Linked DNA regions of Homo sapiens: region 2 is linked to region 1. Evidence: fine-mapped expression QTL. A gene starts in region 1. The other region holds a variant in brackets. All regions are shown on one strand. Distances are between the middles of the regions.

The links. PIP is the estimated chance that this variant, and not a neighbour inherited with it, causes the effect.
Region 2: its variant is the best candidate, but not a certain one, in a credible set for the expression of WFS1 in testis (GTEx, PIP 0.82).

The regions. Positions count from the first base shown.
Region 1 is chr4:6,266,914-6,271,913 of GRCh38, forward strand. WFS1 (wolframin ER transmembrane glycoprotein) reads left to right here and starts at 2,937. Exons shown (of 8, transcript NM_006005.3): 1 at 2,937-3,101. RefSeq lists a silencer at 2,915-3,024.
Region 2 is chr4:6,629,480-6,634,998 of GRCh38, forward strand. LOC124900653 (a long non-coding RNA gene) reads right to left here. Exons shown (of 2, transcript XR_007058007.1): 2 at 1,674-5,519. Among named protein-coding and RNA genes, the nearest start is that of MRFAP1, 8.4 kb to the right of the region's middle. The variant C/T (reference allele first, on the strand shown) is at 3,157.

The DNA.
Region 1 (5,000 bases):
TAATACCACTCTTCCCGTGAATGCTTTCCATCATGCGTTCTTCCTTATCAATAGTAATTTGCCATTTTTCAAATGTCTGCTGTGATCTTCTACTTCTCAATATTTTTGGTGTGTTTCTTGTAAATAGCGCTTAACTGGACTTTAGTTTTTGCCCCAATCTTACAGACTTTGGATGGGAAATTCAGCCCATTCACCGTGTTACGAAGGCGGGTAGCCATGGCTTTATTTATTTTATCTCATCTTATGTTTACTATTATTAAGCTTATTGTTCTTGCTATTATTTACTTTCCCCCTTAATTTTGCTTCCTTACTCTCCCTCCACCCCTCCCCCAACTTCTACCTAGTAATTCAGGAGTTCTACTCTGCTTCTTTCCCGTGAGTTGCTACTTTCCAATTCCTGAGAGTCATAATTCAACCAATCTTTCCCTGATAATGTATTAAAAGTAAATGGTAATGAAGCCCCCTCCCCACCACCAATAAGGCTTTCCTTCCCCAGCTGAGAGTCATAATTAAACCAATCTTTCCCTGCTAATGTATTAAAAGTAAATGGTAATGAAGCACCCCTCCCAACCACCAATAAGGCTTTCCTTCCCCACTCACCAAATCAGATCCTTTTACTTCCTCCTTCTCCCCTCAACCAAATGTGATCTTAAAATATTCTGACTTCTCTGTGATAAGATTCTATTTTTTTTTTTAGTTCCAGGCTAATACAACTTTCTCTTGAAGCATGTAGCTTATGTTTTAAGAATCCTTATGTGGCACTGCTAGTACAAAATCACAGGCACATGTGGATTATCCATACTGTATATTTTGCAAGGGTCATTGCTTAACACCACTTCCTGTTCTGAGCGTTTGCTCTATCTTGAAATCTCTACTGTGATTGAACTGTCTCGGTGACGGGGGAACTCTGAATATCTTCCTCTGAAAGGGGACATCACTGAGGTCCTTTCTCTGTCTTGCCACAGTGGATATTTTCTCTCTTTTGTCCACATAGATGAATCCTGTAGTAGCCATGGTAAGGATCCTTGATCCTATCATCAGAGTCCCTGGACATTGCTCCAAAGTCCCCTAGGAACCACTTCAACTTTTCTCCCCTTAGATGTGACCTGTTCTTTCTGGAACTCTGCAAGACCGTCTCTTTATCCTTGGCATCTGGGATTTCCAGGGACACGTTCTCCTGGCACTTTGCTCACCTCTGTTTCCCCTCCAGCTCTTCCTGGAGTACCTGTCCTTTGTGCAATACACCTCCTGGAACTGTCTTTCCAGTCTCTGCTTTTTGTCCTGATGATTTTCATGTGCTTTTCCTCTACATCATGAAGCATTTACTCCACATTATCTTCCAGTTTGCTCATTTGTCCTCACCTCCACTCTTCTCTTTCTGAATTTGCCTGTTGCTTTTTCAGTCTCTTAGCTCCGTGGAGTATGTTCAGTGTTGCTGTGTTCTGATAGAGGCTCCTTAAGCCATCTTGTAGATTTTTTGTTGCACTTCCTCTCTTCCCTTAGACCTCCACAGGAGGAACTTTTCAATCTGTCCTCTTCTCTCTGCTTAATGAGCCCCTGCAAAGGGTTTGGGAAGTGCTTCAGCCTCTCTGTGATTGTGTGTTCACATTAATATTTATTATTTTCTTAAATGTGCATAAATCTCACAATGTGAACAGTGATCATCTTTGAGTGATTTTTTTTCTCCTTTCTACTTTTAGTAATTCTCCAAATTTTCTACAGTTAGTGTGTGATAAGGTGGAAAGACATCTTCAAGACTTTGGGCAAATAACTATGTCTGAGCCTCAATTTTCACATCAATAAAAAATGGGCTCAGTGCCACCTCCCTCCTTGGGTCACTAGGGGGGCCCTTGAAAGCTGTGAAAGCCCCTAAGCCAACCTGGACAGAGCAGGCGAGGCTGACGGCAGGTGTTCTTCCTTCCTCTGTGAGCCTCACAGGGTCACACGTGAACATTGGGGATCGGGGGTGGGCAGTGGGGGCAGCTGGAGAATCAAATGAGGTGACTGACATGAACTACGCCGCTTTGACAAAAGTCCTCCGAAGTAGTGTGTTCAGAACTCATCTCCAAAGCCATCTGGAATATTTGCTCCCAACATGTTGGTAAGCATTATCTCTGACAGTCACTCCGAGCCCCAGTTTCTGCTGTGATAACTAGGACAGGTAGCTCAGGTTGGTTGTGGGGACCAGAGACAGAGCAGGCAGGGTCTCACGTTCCCCAGGGCCTCTCAAGGATAGACCCTCGCCCTCATCTCCAAACCACGCCTCCCAGACAGGAACCAAACTCCCAGAGTCTCCAAACTGCCTGAGCCTTGCCCACTCCCTGGGCTAACACACACTTTAAAGGAATCCCACAGTCACCGTGTGAAAAGCTTGCTACACTGCATTTGATTCTGGGCACTGAAAGCAGTACTTGGCTGCAGACACTCGTTTCAAACAGGCCCCATTTTTCCATCTCTGCTGCTGTTATTAGGGGAGCCCTTAGACTCTCTTGCAGCGCCGGAATAGGCGCTCAAGACGTGTGTTAATATTGCAACAGCAAATATAATGAATCTGCAGTTGGGGACGCTGAGGCCGGAGTGGTGGATGAAAGGTGGCCGGAGCCTTTTCCACGGGTCCAAACCACCTGTTACAGGAGAAGGCGAGCGGCCTCGCTAAGCAACTGGACGTTCCGCGGGCGGGGCGGGGGCGGGGCCGGGGCCCGAGTCCGCTCGGAAACTTTCGCTGTGGGCGAGCCGGACCCGCCTTCTGGCCCCTCGGGCCCAACCACGCAGGGGGAGTGCCGGGCCGCAGCTAGGCGAGGCGCACCGTGATTGGCGGAGATGTGGAGTGATTGGCGGCTACACCGGCCACTCAGCAGGCCGAGCTGGCGCCGCATCCGGGGGGCCGCGTCTGGAGTGGAGGGAGGCCGAAGGCCCCGCCCCTGCCCCGCCCCCTCGTGCAGAAGGCCGCGCTAGCCGGCTCTTCAGCAGCGAGTGCAGATTGCTCCCCCGCGGCCGCAGATCTCCCGTTTGCGCCGCGTTCAGCTGCTCCCGAACAACTTTTCTGCCGGCCCAGAGGCCCCAGGGCGTCGCAGCGCCGCGTGCGGCCCACTCACGGGCCGGTGAGTACTTCGGCGCTGGGGCAGTGGCGCGGTGGCTGTGGGCAGCGCGCAGGAGGCGGGCAAGAGCCCTGAGGCACTGTCCTCTTCGGGCCTCAGTTTCCCCTTCCGAGCTGATGGGTGGCTGGCCCCAAAGTCCCGACAAGGTCCCCGAAGTTGGAGGGCCGGGGGTCCCGCCCGCTCTGCAACGCGCAAGGCGACCCCTGTTCCGGGCCCGAACGGGTCACCCGGGGGGCGCGCCCCGGTCCCCCGCGCGCTGTCGCCTGGAGCCCCGCCGCGGGCGGGACAGCAGGCCCGAGAGGCGGAGCGGCCGGCGGGCAGGCCCCCTCCCCGCGCCCCGCGCCATCCCCCCCGAGTTGCCCCGTCATGCCCCTCCCCCGCGGTCCCGGGACCCACGGCCGCCCTCGGTGCCCGCCCGGCCGTTGGAACGCGCCTGGGCCCCCGGGAGGTGTTGTGGGGGGGAAGGGGGGTTCAGTCCCCCAGGGGGACCCGGCCCGCCCGAGGGGCAGCTTAGGGGTCATTCTGAATCCCCACAGCCCACTTAGGAGCGCTGTGGCAGTTCCTCTCTCTCTCGGGGCCCCTCAGTAGAGAGTTGAGGGGTTTCAGTGGCAGCACCTGGACCCTGCCTCGTATGAACTCCACCCTCTGGATCATTAGCTTTTTGTTTGATCAACGAAAACTTTCTGGAGAATCCTACCCAGCCCTTTTGGATGTGATGGCGCCCTGGCCTCTCACCCACTTAGCAGATGATGTTATGAATTCCAAGGAAGTCGCATTTGTGCAACCCCCCACCACCCAGATTTAACCCTCTCAGTAGCCTTAGGCGGAGAAGTTATAGTCCCCGTTTGACACCCCAGGAAGCTGAGGCTCAGCAGGGTTTGGTGCCAGCCCAGGACCACGAAGCTGATGGGGCAGAGCCTGGTGTGAGGCCTCTGCCCTATCTCTCCAGAAGCAGCCCCGTCTCTCCTCACCTTGGACAGTGACCCCTGGCATTTGGCCCAGGGCTTTGCAGTTTGTAAAGGGCTTTCTCTTATGCCAGCATCCATCACTCAAGGAGCTGTGCCCTGGGTACCCCATGTGCTGGCTGCCTGTTCTCTGCAGCAGGAGAGGGAGCCCACGGGAAGCCCAGAGGCCACCTTTGTCACTGTCGCCACCTGTTTACTTCTGTGTCCAAGGGTCTGTGATTCCCATGGGGTCTCCGTTGTATCCAACCAGGGATTTGGAGGGAGGCTTCTCCACATTTCAGCCTCTTTTCCCTACCTGCTGGTTTGTCCTCCCTTCGCAGACACAGGAAAAGTTGGCTGGGAGACCCCATCTCACCTTCTTTCCCAGGATGGAAGAGCATGGAGGGCGTCTCTGACTTAGGCCTCCCCTGCCCATCCCGGACCAGTGCTGGACAGGCTTCTGGGGCTGGTCACAGAGGGGACCTCAGCTCAGTCTCAACCCCCAGAGATGTCTGCACTGCCAGACAGACCCGAAACACCCATCCTTGACGGTGGCAATAAGAATCATAATAGGTCGGGAGCTTTATGCCTACACGGCTCCCCTCCCCTCCCACTTCCCTACTTCCGGAAGTGGTACCACCACAGCCAGCCAGCCCCAGCCACAAACCAGACCACCCCCTGTGCCCTTCATTCCTCACTCCCAGTTGGGTCTCTCCTGGCTCCTGAGCCTCACTCGGATGCCTGCCCTGGTTCAGGACCCTCGCCTCTCCCTGGACGACCCCCAGGCTCCTCCCTGGTCCCGATCCGGGCCTGGCTGCACGCAGCCCTGCTGGTTCTTCAGCTGCCACTTCCCTCTGGGCTATCGGGTCAGGTCCGCCTCCCGAGCCAGGAGCCGGCATTCTTTCGGGCCCTCAGGGACCCGCCTCGCTGCTCACTCAGCCTCTCCCTCCTGTGTCCT
Region 2 (5,519 bases), 360 kb after region 1:
CAGCTTTCCTTACATCCAAAGGAAGCATATGAATCCTTCTCACTAAGGTAATGAAAGAGAATGCCTCTGACCATTCCAACACCCCAGCTAAGACCCCAGACATGTGAGTGAGACCTTTTTGGGTTTTTCAGCCATTCCAGGTAGCAGCTCAACCCAGCAGAGTGAGTGACTCTAGGTGATAAACTATACATGAAGCAGAAGAACCAACCAGCTGAGGCCTGCCCGAACTCCTAACCCACAGAATTGTGACAAATGATTGTTATGGTGCTAAGTACCATAAGATTTGGGCCAGGTGTGGTGGCTCACACGTGTAATCCCAACACTTTGGGAGGCTAATGTGGGAGGATCACTTGAGCCCGGGAGTTCAAGACTAGCCTGGGCAACATGGTGGGACCTTGTCTCTTAAAAAAAAAAAAAAAAATTAGGCAGACATGGTGGTGCACACCTGTAGTCCCAGATGCTCAGGATGCTGAGGTGGGAGGATCACTTGAGCCTGGGAGTTCAAGGCTGCAGTGAGCCATGATCATGGCATTCCACTCCAGCCTGGGCAACAGACTTAGACCTGTCTCAAGAAAAAAATTTAGGGTGTCATGAACACAGCACTAGATAACTGAAATATATAACTTCTTTGTAAGTCATATTTATCATTACACAATGCTCCTCTTGTTTCGTATTTTAACCTTAAATTGTGCTTTATTCCTTAATTTTTATACATTCCTTGTCACTTCATTATAGGTGTGTTTCTTATATATAGCACATACCTTGATTTTAGGTTCTTTTTGTTTGTTTTTTTCGTGTTTTTTTTTTTTTTTTTTTTTTGAGACGGAGTCTCGCTCTGTTGTCCAGGCTGGAGTGCAGTGGCACCATCTCGGCTCATGGCAAGCTCCACCTCCAGGGTTCATGCCATTCTCCTGCCTCAGTCTCCCAAGTAGCTGGGACTAGAGGCACCTGCCACAACACCCGGCTAATTTTTGGTATTTTTAGTAGAGATGGGGTTTCACCATGTTAGCCAGGATGGTCTCGATCTCCTGACCTCGTGATCTGCCCGCCTCGGCCTCCCAAAGTGCTAGGATTACAGGCGTGAGCCACCGTGCCCAGCCATGATTGGATTTTATTAAATATTTGTTCCCTTTTCTATTTATAGTGCATTTTACTTCATTGTTTTCTCTCCTCATTTTCCCTTTTCTTTTCAATTTTCCAGAGTCCTATTTTATTCTCTTTTTTCTCCTCATTACTTTGAAAGTTCTACTAGTCTTTTCAATTTTTTTAGTAGTTTTGTTCTGGATTGTTTTAGGCATAATAATTACAAATAAGCCTCTATTTCCTTTCTGGAATAACAAAATAAAATAATCATCATCCTTCACCACCACAAAGATGGCTTTGTTGCCCACTCTCCTTCCTCTTTCTCCCATAGCAAGATAAAATCTTTGGACCATGTGTACATTCCCATTCTTCCCATCCATTTATAACTTCAGGCTTTGGTTTTGTCAAGCTATTCAAGTCTCTGGAGAAGCAGCAAACAGAAAGTGGAGGAAGCATGGCAGTTTAGACACTTCAGGCCCACAGCAAGCAAAGGGCAAAGGAGAGGAAGCCAGTCTGCTTATGACTTCCCTAGGGACGGACACCAGCTATTAGGCTCTTCAGGCTGATATAACAAATTACGCCAGACTGGATGGCTTAGACAACAAACATTTATTTCTCATAGTTCTTGAGCCCAGAAAGTCCAAGGGTAAGATGCTACCAGATCTGGAGGCTGGTGAGGACTGTCTTCCTGGTTTGCAAATGGCCATCTTTAAACTGAGTGGTTAATTTGATGAGATCTGCTTACCCTGCTTGCTTTGGGTCACTTGCTTTTTGTTATTTTTTCTTCCTTTTTCCATGAAGCTGAAGGCCACAGTAGCTGAAGTATGCATCACTGAATTCTAAAACTTAAACCTTTACTGACTACTGTATTTTTTATTTTACTTTTTAAGAAACAGGATCTCACTCTGTTGCCTAGGCTGGAGTGCAGTGGTATGTTCATAGCTCACTGAAGCCTCAAACTTCTGAGCTCAAGCAAACCTCCCACCTTGGTCCCCCAAAGTGCTGGGGTTACAGGCATGAGCCACTGCACCTGACCTTTACTGGCTACTTTATAGATAGCATTTATAGGTCACCATGGTAATGGTTACTTCAGTTATTTTTCAGGAACTTGGGCCAGCTCCTGTCATGTTCAAACCAGCTGAGACCACCAACTCTTCAACTGGGCCTGCGCAAGTGCCTGAGAGGTGGCCTTTGGACATCAGAGGGCCAAATACTCCACCCTCAGATCATGCTAACACCACCATTTTCTGTACATAGGTCCTATGAAATGTCATGAACCCTGACTACACTTGTGCAAAATGAATCTGTTACTTTATTTTTCCCCACTGCCAATCACCTTTCCCCAAGACTTAAACCACCCCACTTCTCTAACCCATAAATATCCCTAAGCCTTATTTTCAGAGAAGTGGATTTGAGAGCTGTTTTCCCACATCTTCACCTGGTGCCCTTGAGAATAAGTATCTTTTCTTTTGCAGAACCCATGTCATAGTGATTGATTTACTGCACATGGGCAGAACGGACCTGGACCTGGCCAGTAACAGTCTTCTTGTCGTAGCCTCACATGGCAGAAAGTAGAGAGTAAGACCTCTTGCATCTTTTCTTACAAGGCACTAATCCTGTGATAGGTACCCCACCCTCATGACCAAATCTAACCCTAATCACCACCCAAAGGCCTCATCTCCAAATACCATCTCATTAGTGGTTAGGATCTCAACATAAGAACTTGCAGGGGACACAAACATTCGGTCCATAGCACCAGGCTTCTCCCCATCTCAGGCGGTGGCACAGCTCAGCCTCTGCATCTGCTCCCAGGACCAGCAATGTTGAACAGGTGCCCCTAGTAGGGACAGGTGAGTCCCAAAATTGGGGCTGAGCCCAGGAGGGTTCTTGGCTTTACCCAGAAAAGAATTTCAGGGCAAGCCGGTGGTGTTAGCAACTTTTATTGAAGCGGCAGAGTACAGCAGCAGCAGAGGTATCACTCATTGGCAGAGCAGGGCTGCCCATAGCCAATGTGCCCAGAGTAGCAACTCAGAGGCAGTTCCACAGTCATATTTATACCTGCTTTTTTTTTTC[C/T]GGGCAGACTTTCACTCTGTCACCCAGGCTGGAATGCAGTGGCACAATCTCAGCTCAGTGCAACCTCCACCTCCTGAGTTCAAGCTATTCTCCTGCCTCAGCCTCCCCAGTAGCTGGAATTACAGGCACGTGTCACCACACCCAGCTAATTTTTGTTATTTTTAGTAGAGATGGGTTTTCGCCATGCTGGCCAGGCTGGTCTCAAACTCCTGACCTCAGGTGATCCGCCCGCCTCGGCCTCCCAAAGTGCTGGAATTACAAGTATGAGCCACCATGCCCGGCCTATACCCACTTTTAATTATGTGAAAATTAAGGGGGGAGATTATACAGAAATTTCTAGAAATAGGGTGGTAACTTCTGGGTCATAAGGCTGTTGTCATGGAAAGTGGCAGTAATGTCCGGGTGTTGTCAGTGGGCATGGATTCTGTAGAGGTGCTTTTACCTCTTCCCCTGTTTAGCTAGTCCTCAGACTGGTCTGATGTCTGAGCCCTGTCTCCAGAGTCCCGCCTCCTGCCGTCTCACTAGGACTACACATGTGCAGGCAGCTCTAATCCTTCCCTGGAGGCCGCCCAGGTGTCCAGGGGCTGTGCTGCCTCTGGGAATCATTAAAGGTCGCTCTGTGCCCAAAGCCTCTCACACTGGGCCCTCAGCATCACGTCCTCTCCCAAGAGGGAACAAAACAATCCCTTCTCTGCTCTACTCTGCAGAATTTACAGCTGAGCCATAGGACTGGGAGTTCCAATTCTTCCCCCATGTCGCCCTGCCTTTCATCACTTGGTCCAGGACAAACTGTTCTCCAATTTCCAGCCTGGGGAAAAGCAAGTTCTGCCTCATGGCAGCATTTACCAGCTGAAACGCCCTGGTTTTGTTTGCACCTGTGTTTGTTCTCAGGCTACAGCTAATGATGCCCTGGGGCTGCCCACAGTCAAACTGGTTTGCAAAATTGCATCTTTGACTTCAACAATTTCTAAAGAATCTCTAAATTTATAAATAATTCACTCAAGAGAAAGAAAAATGAATCCAGACAAACTCTGCAATGCACCAAAGAAATGGAATCTACATAGAGATTGCACTATAGGTGAATGAGGCAAAAACAGGAAGCTATTGCAACATTGGGGGAGGCGGGAGTTGGTGGATGTGCATAAAGTCCTGGTCCCAGCCTTACAGAATGCTCACTCTTCTCAAGCACACACACAGAGTGTGCTGCAATTGCCCAGGCCGAAATTTTTACAAATTTCAGAGAATCACTATCAAACCGAACTCCATCTCTAAGAAGAATACAATTAAGTTAGACATCAGTAATAGAAGAGCATAAACAGCTCTAATGTGGTTGAAATTTTTAAAACACAGTTTTGGGTTTTTTTTCTGGTTTTTGGTTTTTTGTTCATTTGAGACAGAGTTTCGCTCTTGTTGCCCAGGCTGGAGCGCAGTGGCACGATCTCGGCTCATTGCAACCTCCACCTCCTGGGTTCAAGCGATTCTCCTGCCTCAGCCTCCCAAGTAGCTGGGATGACAGGTGCCCATCACCACGCCTGGCTAATTTTTGTATTTTTAGTAGAGACAGAGTTTCGCCATGTTGGCCAAGCTGGCCTCAAACTCCTGTGATCTGCCTGCCTCGGCCTCCCAAAGTGCTGAGATGACGGGCATGATCCACTGCGCCTGGCCAAAGCACAGTTCTAATAATTTATGGATCAAGAAATCATAATTGGAATAAAAGTACACTTAGAACTAAATAATGAAAATGCCAATATCAAAAGCTGTGTGATGCAAGTAAAGTCATGCTTGATGGGAATTTAAGATCTTAAATGCTATGTTAGAAAAAAAAAACCCATTAATGAGTTGAGTTTCACCTAAGAAAATTTTTAAAAAGCACAGAATAAATCAAAGAAAGTAGAAAGGAGATAATAAAGATAAGAACAGAAATTAATGAAAGAGGCTGGGCATGGTGGCTCACTCCTGTAATCCCAACAATTTGGGAGGCCAAGGCAGGTGGATTGCTTGAGGTCAGGAGTTCAAGACCAGCCAGGCCAACATGGCAAAACCCCATCTCTACTAAAAATAAAAAAATTAGCTGGGTGTGGTGGTGGGTGCCTGTAATCCCAGCTACAGGAGGCTGAAGCAGAAGAACTGCTTGAACCCGGGAGGCAGAGGTTGCACTAAGCCGAGATCGCACCACCGCACTCCAACCTGGGCGACAGAGTGAAACTCTGTTTCAAAAAAAAAAGAAAAAGCAATTCGAAAGAAATAAATAAAAGAGAAAACAAAGAAACGCTAGCTCATCAGTCCCTGGATGCATGTTGTGCACCTGGCATTTCTGCCCTGCACAAGAACACCTGGAGGAGTGGGGCCCAATCTAACCTCAC